4 linked regions of the Homo sapiens genome follow. The protein of the gene in region 2 purifies or fractionates together with the protein of the main gene of each other region. This does not show direct contact. Each region holds a gene or a part of one and is shown on either strand. Other genes may lie near its edges.

Region 1 (3,310 bases), on a different chromosome or scaffold from region 2:
AGAGTGCAATGGCGCGATCCTGGCTCACTGCCATGTCCACCTTCCAGGTTCAAGCGATTCTCCTGCCTCAGCTTCCCAAGTAGCTGGGATTACAGGTGCCCACCACCATGCCTGGCTAATTTTTGTATTTTTAGTAGAGATGGGGTTTCACCATGTTGGCCAGGGTGGGCTTGAACTCCTGGCCCCAGGTGATCCGCCCGCCTTGGCCTCCCAAAGTGTTGGGATTACAGGCGTGAGCTACCGCGCCCAGCCATTTTTCACCCTTTAATAACTGCTTCTGATACTAAAATAACTAAAAGAATACCCCAGGATCATAAAGCTGTATCTTGTCTCTCTGCCCTTGTTTTAAGTGAAACACCATTACTTCCCACTGCCCTCATCATCCAAAAAACAACTTAGACAATAATAATAATAGAATTAGCGAGGGCAACATATAATACTGAAAGGTAGACAGAAGTAGTCATTAGACATACACCACCTAGAGAAAAGGAAACCAGTCCTGCTTTTTAATAATTTTATTTTTTTTCTAATTTTGTTAATTTCCCATAGCACCTTGGCGATGTTGAAAACAAATACAAATACAAGGATGTACTCATTTTAACATTTTATGCATGAGCATGTGTCACACCAATTTTGGGGGTAACAGTTTTGACAACAGGAACAAATCTAAGCAATCGACAAAACAGAAGCCGGATAACTGGCTCTGACCCCCACCCCCAACATTTAAGAGATGCAAAGGACACCTGAATTAGGTTAAAAAAATCAAGTTGATATGGATATTTCAACAGTGTTCTGTGCTGCAAAACTGAAAATAAAACCATTTAATACACAGCCCATTAATATCTGAGTTACGCTTTTAGGAACTGTCAACTCGAAGATTCATAAAAAGTTGTCAGCTTTTAAAAATAAACTTTAAGTTATCTAATAATCAGGTGAATTTCAAAGGAGGATTTACTCACAACTTGAAAATAAATTCTCTTTCAACTTCTTAAAATATCCTCATTCAGCTAATGAAAAGGGAAACATATATGTATCTTTTCGGAAGCTCAGACTAGCATATGCCCAAAAGCCTAAAGTTAAATTAATGGCCACCAAAATTGTAAGGAAATATAAAAAATTAGGAAAAAATCCATCATATATTATAGTTAATAATTTATAAAAGCCCCTCAGAAGGAATACACTGTTCTCTTTTGAGTTTTATCTTTTCTGTAAAAACAAAATTGGTACTTTTAAAATATGGTTAATATATATATTGCCAGCCTAAATACCAGAGACTTAACCCCAGTGTTGTTCAACTGTGTCAAAGTAAAACCAGTGGACATTTAAGCCAAGAGACTAATTATTAAGGCCATAACTAAGAAAACTAGAGAAGTGTTCATTAACTTTTAAATACTATTTTACGTTCCAGCAACATTCTTTTTGTTCTTCTTTACCCTAGTGAAGATGCTAACATTCCATCATTAAGCCTTTCCAAAGCAAACCTGTTTATTTAAAAAAGAAAAAGGAATGTGAAATAATATTCAAGCTATCTTAATTTTAGGAAACAAAAATAAATCAGAATTCTGCACAGCATCTGATCATCTGCAAATTCAGCACATAAGACAACTACAACAAACCTTTATCATTGAAAGCTCTTATATTCCTCAAAACCCAGCTGAAAAAAATTTAGATGGATCACTATTTTAAATGTCAGTGTATTTGGCAAAATTAAAATTACTCAGAGACAGGCCCTAGGTATTATGAAAACCTTAATTATCAGGATAGCAAATGGAGACAGGTTTTGCAATGTCTCTATGTACCTTCTCTATGAAGTGCAAAGTGGTGAACTTGTGTGACTCTTGTTCTCTTCATGCAGTAAGAACTATGGCAGAGTATCACTATACCCAACATTCAATATCATTTATACCTACTTTTAGCCTCCAACAGATCAAGGAAATGTCAAGTCATAAAGGTGAAGAGAAAAATTTGATTTTTTAAATTCCTCCATCTAAAGAACCAAATAAATAAACTACAATGAACATCCACCCTCATTAGTTACAAAGTAACGTTGGAAAAAAGCCAAGAGCTTCACACAACTCATAGGCATTATTTAGATACAAACTTTAAATCTGCTGTAATAAAATAAATGCTAAATACATACTGTGAATATATATAAATATTACACACACATACACACACACACACTCTCTCACTCTTCCCTATACATGCCATCAAATGGGAACTATTAGATGTAATGAGGCAAATTAAATTAAAAACATTGTCTTAATGAGAAAATTTTTAAAGGTTATATCTACAAATTAAATTTCTACTTTAAATAACATTTGAAGTAAAAGCAAAAATATACTTGCTTTCTTCTAAAAGAAGGCTCTTTTCTTGTATTTCAATTACAACCTTTAAATTTTTAGAGCTGGACTAACAGTAAGTCACACAAGCATACAAGTAATACAGACCTACATTTGTGACACATTGTTTAAAAAAAGTAATGTTTCATTTTAAGTGCAGTAATTAAGTTTATAATCCTTACCAAGTGATTTTTACAAAATGTTTATTCTCTGAAATCCAACGCATTCAAAGGATGTTAACACTTAAAACGTTTATCATTTCCACCAACTGCATTATCTTAGTAAACCAAAATAAGCACTTTTATCATAGATGTAGTCAATGATTAATATGTTTTTTTAAAGGACCTAAACTTCCCCCAAATTTCAGCACAGGTAGTTTTATTGTTATGTTTCACCTAGTAGGCAATTTTTAAAAATAGTGTGTAGAAATGAATAGTTTCAAACTGAGTAAATATAGTAGTATACCATGTCATAAAACAATCAAATCAAAAGCAACTGCCAAGCTAATAATAAGTCAAAGAAATAGTAATTCTGGCTTGTACAGATATGTGCAGTGTTTTCAAAGCTCTTAACAGTTAACCACTAACATGTATCTCCAAAGCTTAACTTAGAGTTGGAAGATGAATTTCACAGTAATGTAATTTTAACCACCATTTACATTCACTTTAATATATTACTAAGATGTTTACTCTATGTCACAATGGTGCTTTCCAGTGTTCACAATTTACAGTTTCAATTTGTACATATGTAATTTACTAACATATGGGACAGTTCTTACTATTACAAACTATCCCTTAAAAGAAAAATAAAACCCACCTTACATAGAACTCTGAACATGGTATGACTTAAAACAGATTAACACAACACGGTTTTTAATATTTTAGTCATTTTCTAAATAACAGCATGTAAACTTGTCTATTTAGTATATGAGAGCTACAACTTTATTCACTGAGAAATTATGCACTAAT
Region 2 (2,561 bases):
CACTCCAACCAACCCTTTCTTTTCCTTTCCTTTTTTTTTTTTTTTGAGATGGAGTCTCGCTCTGTCACCCAGGCTGGAGTGCAATGGCGCGATCTTGGCTCCCTGCAACCTCCGCCTCCCGGGTTCAAGCGATTCTCCTGCCTCCGCCTCCCTAGTAGCTGGGATTACAGGAGCCCACTACCACACCCAGCTAATTTTTGTATTTTTGGTAGAGACAGAGTTTCACCGTGTTGGCCAGGCTGGTGTCGAACTCCTGACCTCAGGTGATCCGCCCGCCTCGGCCTCCCGAAGTGCTGGGATGACAGGCGTGAGCCACCGCGCCCGGCCCCACCCGGCCCTTTCTACCCCTTTAACCTAACCAGCCCTGCCCCGTCAGCGTAGCCAGAGCTCCCGAAACCCTGGCCTGGCCTGGAAGTGGCACCTCCTCGCTCAAATGCTGGCCCCACCTCAGTCCTCCTAGTGGTCCCCTGGCTGCTAGCGGACAGGGCTCTGCCGGCCCTCCAACCCCCCGTGCCCCAGCACTGCTCACCCTGGCTGGAGATGTTCATGCAGAAGTACATGCCGTAAATGATGTACACGTACAGGGTCCCCGGCTTCATGAACATGCCTCGGTTGCGGGGGGTCTGCCGGCCACCCCTTGAGTGGGCGGCTTCATCCTCTGGCCCCAGGTATGCCTCGGTCTCCACGATGCGGCCTCGGAGTTCTGTGCCATTAGGAAGTCGCCGGACTAGGACCTGTGGGCAGTCAGTTTCTGCTCAGGGCGGGAAGGGATGGGGGTCCACTCACCCTAACAGTGCCCAGCCTGGACCTCATCTCCCCAGCTCAGGGTGTGTCAGCCGCCCAGGTCTAGCCAGGGACCTTGCCCCGTCTCCATCCTGCCTCTTCTCTTGCTCCTGCTGAGGCTGAATGTGGCTATTGAGGGCACCAGTTGTCTCCTCCAGCCCTGCTAGACAACCAGACCGCAGGCCGAAGATACCTCAGGCCACAGCCAGGCTGGGCTGGGAACCGGCAGTCATGGATTCACCTTGCAGGTCAAGTCCTCTCAGCAGGACCCTCCATTCCCCAGATTCCTCCTTTCCCAAGTGCCCTTGAGAAAACCATCAGCATTTAGCACGAGGCCAGGCATCACGGAAGGCACAGGACCCCAAGGATGTCCCCACACCAGCTACCTGGGCAATCCCAGAGCCCGTGAAGTCCCCTAAACCTGGGCTGCTGAGGTGGCCACAAGGGACCCTCATACTCAGCTCCCACCCTCCGGCTTTCTGAGCAGTAGGCCCAGCTGCCCCACGGTGCCCCAGCCTGGACCATGGTCCTGGTAACGGCCAACAGTTGTGTCACTGCTCGGAGCCCCAGAGTTAACAGCAGAGCACTGGGGACCAACCACATCCCCTGCACCTCTCGTTTTTAGGCCAGATAGGTCAGCTGGACAGCCAGGCTACCTTCACCTCAGCCCACGAAGCCCTGTGGTGCCAAAGGCCATGGTCAGTATCACGGGCTGGGGAGGAGGGGCACTGGAGCTTAGATGCTCGCCGGGGGAGCATTCAGGAGGGCTTCCCGGAGATAGGGTGGTGGGAAGAAGGGGTCAGCGCGGGGAGCATTCAGGAGGGCTTCCCGGAGATAGGGTGGTGGGAAGAAGGGGCCAGCGTGGGGAGCATTCAGGAGGGCTTCCCGGAGGTAGGGTGGTGGGAAGAAGGGGCCAGCGTGGGGAGCATTCAGGAGGCCTTCCCGGAGGTAGGGTGGTGGGAAGAAGGGGCCAGCGTGGGGAGCATTCAGGAGGGCTTCCCGGAGATAGGGTGGTGGGAAGAAGGGGTCAGCGCGGGGAGCATTCAGGAGGGCTTCCTGGAGGTAGGGTGGTGGGAAGAAGGGGTCAGCGCGGGGAGCATTCAGGAGGCCTTCCCGGAGGTAGGGTGGTGGGAAGAAGGGGTCAGCGCCGGGAGCATTCAGGAGGCCTTCCCGGAGATAGGGTGGTGGGAAGAAGGGGTCAGCGCCGGGAGCATTCAGGAGGGCTTCCCGGAGGTAGGGTGGTGGGAAGAAGGGGTCAGTGTGGGGAGCATTCAGGAGGCCTTCCCGGAGATAGGGTGGTGGGAAGAAGGGGTCAGTGTGGGGAGCATTCAGGAGGCCTTCCCGGAGATAGGGTGGTGGGAAGAAGGGGTCAGTGTGGGGAGCATTCAGGAGGCCTTCCTGGAGATAGGGTGGTGGGAAGAAGGGGTCAGTGCCTGGGCGGGAAGCCCAGAAATCCTTAGGCATCCAGAGCCATGAGGACAGAAGTGAACAGGCCAGGCTTGGCCAGGCCATGTCCAGGGGAGAAAGGGTGGCCCTGTTCCATCTTCCCTGGAGCTTAGAGGGAATGCCCCTCCAGGGGCTTCACTCTGCACACTCCTGTGCCTCCATGGGGGCACACTGGGGGGGCCCAACTACCACTCTGGAGAGGAGGTTCCCACAGCCCTTTTCTCATTGTTTCCTTTTCCATCCCAAATTTCTGATCAGGATTTCACTGATACCATTTCCACCAGTGGCAGATACTGGGGCCTCTCACCCCTCCCCACCCCCATGGCCAACAC
Region 3 (3,500 bases), on a different chromosome or scaffold from region 2:
CTTTGGGAGGCTGAAATGAGAGGATGACTTGAGGCCAGGAGTTTAAGACAAGCCCGCACAACATAGGGAGACTACATCGATACAAAAAATTTGAAAATTAGCTGGGCATGGTGGCATGTACCTGTAGTCCTAGCTACTCAGAAGGCTAGGATAGGAGGATCGTTTGAGCCCACAAGTTGGAGGGTATGTTGAGCTACAATCGTGCCACTGCACTCCAGTCTGGGCAACAGAGCTAGGCTGAAGCAGGCAGATCACCTGAGGTCAGGAGTTCGAGACCAGCCTGGTCAACACGGCGAAACCCTGTCTCTACTAAACATACAAAAATTAGCCAGGTGTGGTGGCACGCACCTATAATCCCAGCTACACACGGGAGGCTGAGGCAGGAGAATGGCTTGAACCCAGGAGGTAGAGGTTGCAGTGAGCTGAGATTGTGCTGCTGCACTCCAGCCTGGGCGAGGAAAGTAAGACTCCATCTCGAAAAAAAAAAAAAAAAAAAGTAGGCCAGGCGCGGTGGCTCACGCCTGTAATCCCAGTACTTTGGGGGGCCGAGGCGGGCGGATCACGAGGTCAGGAGATCAAGACCATCCTGGCTAACACAGTGAAACCCCGTCTCTACTAAAAATACAAAAAATTAGCCGGGCGAGCTGGCGGGCGCCTGTAGTCCCAGCTACTCGGGAGGCTGAGGCAGGAGAATGGCGTGAACCCCGGGGGGCGGAGCCTGCAGTGAGCCGAGATGGCGCCACTGCACTCCAACCTGGGCGACAGTGAGACTCCATCTCAAAAAAAAGAAAGTAAAAATAAAGACTAAAAATGACACCTTATTAAGAATGGAACAAAAGAAAAGAGAGCTAAGATAACACCCACGGCCACAGAGAGAGAGCAAGAAAAATCCACTGACGAATTCCTTGTCTTAAGCTCCCATTACACTCCTCCCTCCATTTTTAACTTTATGTAGACTGCTATCCATCTTATAACACACTCATTCTTCAGACACATCACAATGCACATGATCAGATTACAGCTTTCTTTACCTTAAGGATGTCTTCAACCACCACAAGCCCTTTCCAAATTCCCTACGTAGATAAAATTTGGCTTTTCTAGATATCCATCAGCCATCCAAATAAACCATCTCTTAAAATGGGCTACTAATAGAAATGACTCTTGCTCGTTCACTCTCTCTCTCACATGCAAGCAGAATTCAGCATTACTTTTACATGCAGAAAATTTTAAAATAATAGCCTAATTAGAGTTTTCTCCACAACATAATTTGAAAACCTGGAAATGGTAGTTTTAACGGAAAATTATGACAAAATCTTGAAAGAATAAATTTTAGCAAAACTACCACATCAATTCAGATAAATCCAGATTGGCTACATAAACAGTCTGTTGCATACTTTCAGCACAATGAAATCTAACCCTTTCAAGCAGTGATATCAGATTCCACATTCTCAACCTTCTCACCTTTCCGAAGGCAGATGCTCCAGCACAGATGTGTGTGTAATTGAACTGCTTCTGAGTTGCCAAAATCAATGGTGTCAGTTCCTCTGAGAATTAAACACATTTGATAAAAAAATATTTTGAAATACTTTCATATTCATATATTCAAGCGTAATTTAGACACTACATTTTTTTCTACTGGAAAACCTCACCTGGAAGTAGGCCTTTGTACACATCATGCTGAGCCACCAGAACTTTTGCTATGCCTGCTACTTTACAGAGATCTTGTGCCACCTATGATTAAAAGATAAGTTCCTAATTATCCATCTATCAGAAATATACAAATAAAGCCACCACTATAAATATCAACAGATCATAAAATCTTAATGGCCAACTGTAAAAATTATTCTTATTAGCAAAAGGGCCAGTTAAGAATTAAAATATATTCCGGCCGGGCGCAGTGGCTCAAGCCTGTAATCCCAGCACTCTGAGAGGCTGAGGCAGGCAGATCACCGGAGTCAAGAGTTCAAGACCAGCCTGGCCAACATGGTGAAACCCCATCTCTACTAAAAATACAAAAATTAGCTAGGCATGGTGGCGGGCACCTGTAATCCCAGCTACTTGGGAGACTGAGGCAAGAGAATGGCTTGAACCCAGGAGGCGGAGGTTACAGTGAGCCAAGATCACACCACTTCACTCCAGACTGGGCGAAAGAGTGAAACTCCATCTCAAACAAACAAAGAATTAAAATATTAAAATACATTCCTTAACAAAGAAAATCTAATGCCAATAGATCTTACTACTGACTGACCTTACACTGTCCAACTACCAAGCATTTCAACAAAAATTCCTGCCTTGAAAAAGAAAAGTGCTAATTGACAAACCAAAATCAACATGGCTCTTTATTCAAATTTTGTTATAAATTGTGCTTTTTACTTTTGGTTCAATCCAAGTGTAAGTTCAATGTCCTGGAAATGGTGAAAATGAAGTTCTCTAGTAACATCCCATTGTCAACCACTGAGTTCCTGCCCACATACACATATTTATCTATGACAAAGCAAAATATTTCCTATTTTAATTCTTCATTTTTCCTGTTTGGAATTAGAATGGGGTTCTGAGAAAGCTTTTTGATGATTCAGATTTTCTATATTCAGAAGGCAATTAGATTTCCCCTTTTTAAGTATCTTTATTACCTCATGGCTGGTTTCCACTTTAGCTAAGTCATATCAGTCATACTATCGTCTTCTGTCTCCTTGTTTACCTCCAAACTGATTCATTGATTCACTGATGAGTAGGATTAAAAGGCTGTGCCTTGTGCCACCCTCATATGAACTGTTAGCTTGCAACAATATTCACTGAAGAAAGGATGCAGTGCAAGAATACATTCTCTGCTAAACCAAGTGTTCACCGGCATACCATTTGTACTACAGAGGCCCTTTATTATGGATGCAGCTGCATTTAGCTTCTCAAACTTTAAGAGAATTTCCAATTAAGAAACTCAGTTAATTGCAATGTAGCTGCATAGCAGCATGGGATAGAAAATGGGGCAGAATTTTCCCATTGAAACTATCTTGTTTTTACTGGCAAAACGGCTGGCATTATACAGAAGAATAACTTGCTGTTTATGACAAGTAGCTGAATAAAATGGTATAAAACCGAACTCTATTAAACGATCTCTTCATACAGGTACTGGTTGTTTTCTTTAAAATTAGAACATGACAGGTTAGGATTGTAACTGAGTACAGAAGACGATTTCTATTTTGATTTTTCTCAAAGTAGTATAAAGTATCAAAGTCTTTTTAAAGTAATATTACAATAATTATTTTAAATCACAGCAAAACAAACAACAAATCACAAATTCCTATATATCCAAAAACAGGGAAACCAAAAAGATAGCTTAGCCATCATATACTGTGGCTAATACAGACATACAAATAGATAGCTTAGCCATCACACATCACACATTGTGGCTGTATCAACTATGTAAGATCCTACAGTTGTTAGCAGGAATTGGGTAAAGAAATCCACATAACTAATCATAAACCCACCAGAATATGTTCTTT
Region 4 (3,500 bases), about 59 Mb from region 2:
CTCAGGTGATCCACCCGCCTTGGTCCCGGAAAGTGCTGGGATTACAGGAGTGAGCCACTGCGCCCGGCTGAGGCACAACAACTTATAAAAGACAAGCTGATGTTATTTTAAGGTAGGCCAGTTTCATACTTAGGTTGTTATTTAGATGGAGCAGAGACTAGGCAAAAGAGCACATGAATTAAAAAGTACAGAAATTTCCAGGAGGGGCTAACAGGCAGTTGACTGTATGGACAGAACTAAACCAAATTCTATTTGACGTAGGATAATTACTACATAACCCTGGGGTTGAGGTTGTGTGCTTTACTCTGAGTTAACGAATTCATGTGTGGACTTAGACCAGTCTTGTAAATAAAGTGTATTTATTCTGGCTTTTCAGAGGGGGAAGGGCAGAAAAAATGTTGACTTAATTTTGCTAGTTTGTATGTTTCTTCACTCCCCAGGCTTACCCAGAAAAACGTACAAATGCACTCACTAAAAAACATGTTTTTTTCAAAAGAAAGTGAACCACAATGTGCACGAGTTCACATGTTGGGAGCGTGGTCTTCTTTCTGTGTCCATGTGGGCTGTGAAGGGACAGCAGAGGGCTGCCAGACTGGTCCAGCCCCCACAGTCCACCCATGGCTTGTTTCCTGCTTGCTGCTTCTGTGCAAGTTGGAAGCTTAGGACATGAGGGTGTGGGCTAACTGCAGGCTTAAAACTCGGCATAGTTAACATTTCTAAAGCATATTTGATGTAAAATGAACATAAGCAGGTAGAGACTAACAGCAAAAGTAACATCAAATCTATCAGTCAAATGACTACCGCATTTTCAGGATTACTACTAGTACATTTTTGGAATTGGTGTCATGTAAATTATTTTATTTAATGATGGCAATTTACTATCAAATAAGAATTATTAGAAATAGTGTGGCCTCCTCAAAACAATCATTACACACAAAATGAGTTATCTTTTCATATTTCTTAAATTTTTTTTTTTTTTTTGAGATGGAGTTCTGCTGTTGTTGCCCAGGCTGGAGTTCAATGGCATGATCTTGGCTCACCACAACCTCTGCCTTCCAGGTTCAAGTGATTCTCCTGCCTAAGCCTCCTGAGTAGCTGGGATTACAGGCATGTGTCACCATGCCCGGCTAATTTTGTATTTTTAGTAGAGATGGGGTTTCTCCATGTTAATCAGGCTGGTCTCGAACTCCCGACCTCAGATGAACCACCCGCCTTGGCCTCCCAAAGTGGTGGGATTACAGGCGTGAGCCATCGCGCCTGGCCTAAAATTGTTTAAATAATTACAAATTTGTTAAAACAGACCTGGGATGATGCCAGAGCCTGCTCAGCTTACCCGGCCACTCTTCAAGACTTCGCTGTTCTCACCCAGGGCTAGTTCTGCAGATGCCTTGCAAAATTCAGCCAGTCCCCCAATGGGCAGGTATTCCTTGTCCAAATTTTTTGCGGCAATCTGGGCCTCTGCCTAGACAAGAGAAAATACATCCATTGAATTTCTTCTCCTTACTTGGAATTACTATGATTAATGTTTAAAGTTTTATAAGTTAAGTTTTGGAGGTAAAGTCTTTTTTTTTTGAGATGGAGTTTTGCTCTGTCACCCAGGCTGGAGTGCAGTAGTGTGATCTCGGCTCACTGCAACCTCCACCTCCCGGGTTCAAGTGATTGTCTTGCTTCAGCCTCCCGAGTAGCTGGGATTACAGGCGTGCACCACCACGCCCAGCTAATTTTGTATTTTTAGTAGATACGGGGTTTCACTATGTTGGCCAGGCTGGTCTCGAACTCCTGACCTCAGGTGATCCACCTGCCTCGGCCTCCTAAAGTGCTGGGATTACAGGCATGAGCCACTGCGCCCGGCCAAACCTTTTTTTAAAATTTGAAGTTACTCTCTGAGAAGAAGGGTAGGTAGAATGCTTGATAGTTTGTATTGCAGAACAGAAATACTTTCTTTTTCAAATTGTATTTTATTGTTTAAGTTAGGTTTTATGTGGATGGGTATAGTCTCTCTTGGTTACAATTTAACATAAAATGAGATTCTTGGAATGCACAAGACCAAGGTTTAAGAGCAACACCTAAAATAGATATAAGATGATTAAATCAAACTAAATACAAAAGAGAAAGCATGTCAAGCTATATGCCAGTCTAAGAACTTCGAAGTGTTAACAGTAATAGCCACACATCTTCGTGCTTTGGCATTGGAAGCCTGGCTGTCCCTTACAAGTTGTGTTACCCTAGGCAAGTTATTTAGCCTTCCTGAGCCTCAGTTTCCTCCTCTGTTAAATGGAGGAACTATTTCTACCTCTCACAGTGTTGAGGTGAAGTGTGAATGAGGGAATGTACAATAGTGCTTGGTAGTGATGCAGGTTGCAGTAGCAAATACTTGCTGAATAACTTAAAAAATTATTCTAAGGGGATTTGTTATATTATTTAGTTAACAAATAAAGATGCTACTAATAAAAATATAACAAAAGAAAGAGGTGAAAATTGCATAGCTCAGCAGGAAGAAAGGACAGAGCATGCCTGTGTACAAAGGTTTGATTAAAGTAATCACAGTTAGAGAAATGGAAAATAAAAATAGTAATCCACGAAGAGCTATTCCTCTCAACAAGAGACAGCGCTTAAAGTCTTGGTCCTCTTATGCACCTTCAGGATTAAAGTAGGCATAGCTAAGCATTTCTAAAGCGTATTTAATGTCTGTTTTATAGATGATCACAGAACCATAGAAAGTTCAATCTTGGGAAAAAACAGGTGGTTCCAACCTCTCACCTTTACAGTCAAGGAGACTACAGCCCAGAAAACCCGGGTGATTCATGCCATTAGTGCCAGAACTAAAGCCCAGGGCTCCTGATTCCCGGTCCAGCACTATTCCTGCCACTCTCCAGGGCTCTCTTCAGTTTATTCATCCCATTCAAAAGGAGATGAACAGCAAGCTCACCTTGCGGACGCTAGGCAGAACGTAAGGCTTTCCATTATCATCCCGGTAGGCACCAACTCCCAGATTCATCTTTTTGCTATTGGTGTCCCTCTTAAAGGCTTCAGTGACTCCCAGAATGGGATCTGGAGGTCCCATTTCCACATGGGTCCACCAGGAGCTGAAATGAGAAACACATTAGCTCAATCCCATTAGCTAGATCCAAGATCCATTTTACTTATTTATTTATGAGATAGACTCTTGCTCTGTTGCCCAGGCTGGAGTGCAGTGGTGCTATCTTGGCTCACTGCAGCGTTTGCCTCCTGGGCTCAAGTGATTCTCCCACTCCAGCCTCCCAAGTAGCTGGGATTACAGGCATGCATTACCACGTCAGCTAATTTTTGTATTTTTAGTGGAGATGGGGTTTCACCATGTTGGCCAGGCTGGTTTTAAACTCCAGACCTCAAGTGATCCACCGCACCCGGCCATATTACTCTTATATATTTAAAATTATGAAAAATACAAATTTGTGTTAAATAAAATTGAATTGCTATTCTGACAAACTTTTTTTTTTTTTTTGAGACAGAGTCTCGCT

What was found. The genes of interacting proteins can lie anywhere in the genome.
Region 1: the proteins of MPG (region 2) and LARP4 purify together in Homo sapiens (affinity purification with mass spectrometry, with the first as the bait; one study listed by BioGRID). This does not show direct contact.
Region 3: the proteins of MPG (region 2) and ETFA purify together in Homo sapiens (co-immunoprecipitation; one large-scale study listed by IntAct). This does not show direct contact.
Region 4: the proteins of MPG (region 2) and GOT2 purify together in Homo sapiens (affinity purification with mass spectrometry; one large-scale study listed by BioGRID and IntAct). This does not show direct contact.

What each region holds. Positions count from the first base shown.
Region 1 is NC_000012.12:50,477,195-50,480,504, reverse strand, and holds the end of LARP4 (la-related protein 4), read right to left. Parts: 3' UTR 501-3,310; downstream 1-500. UniProt on the Homo sapiens protein: RNA binding protein that binds to the poly-A tract of mRNA molecules. Associates with the 40S ribosomal subunit and with polysomes. Plays a role in the regulation of mRNA translation.
Region 2 is NC_000016.10:81,225-83,785, reverse strand, and holds part of MPG (DNA-3-methyladenine glycosylase), read right to left. Parts: intron 735-2,561; coding exon 530-734; intron 1-529. UniProt on the Homo sapiens protein: Hydrolysis of the deoxyribose N-glycosidic bond to excise 3-methyladenine, and 7-methylguanine from the damaged DNA polymer formed by alkylation lesions.
Region 3 is NC_000015.10:76,290,970-76,294,469, forward strand, and holds part of ETFA (electron transfer flavoprotein subunit alpha, mitochondrial), read right to left. Parts: intron 1,732-3,500; coding exon 1,650-1,731; intron 1,545-1,649; coding exon 1,462-1,544; intron 1-1,461. UniProt on the Homo sapiens protein: Heterodimeric electron transfer flavoprotein that accepts electrons from several mitochondrial dehydrogenases, including acyl-CoA dehydrogenases, glutaryl-CoA and sarcosine dehydrogenase.
Region 4 is NC_000016.10:58,720,817-58,724,316, forward strand, and holds part of GOT2 (aspartate aminotransferase, mitochondrial isoform 1 precursor), read right to left. Parts: intron 3,087-3,500; coding exon 2,930-3,086; intron 1,463-2,929; coding exon 1,334-1,462; intron 1-1,333. UniProt on the Homo sapiens protein: Catalyzes the irreversible transamination of the L-tryptophan metabolite L-kynurenine to form kynurenic acid (KA). As a member of the malate-aspartate shuttle, it has a key role in the intracellular NAD(H) redox balance.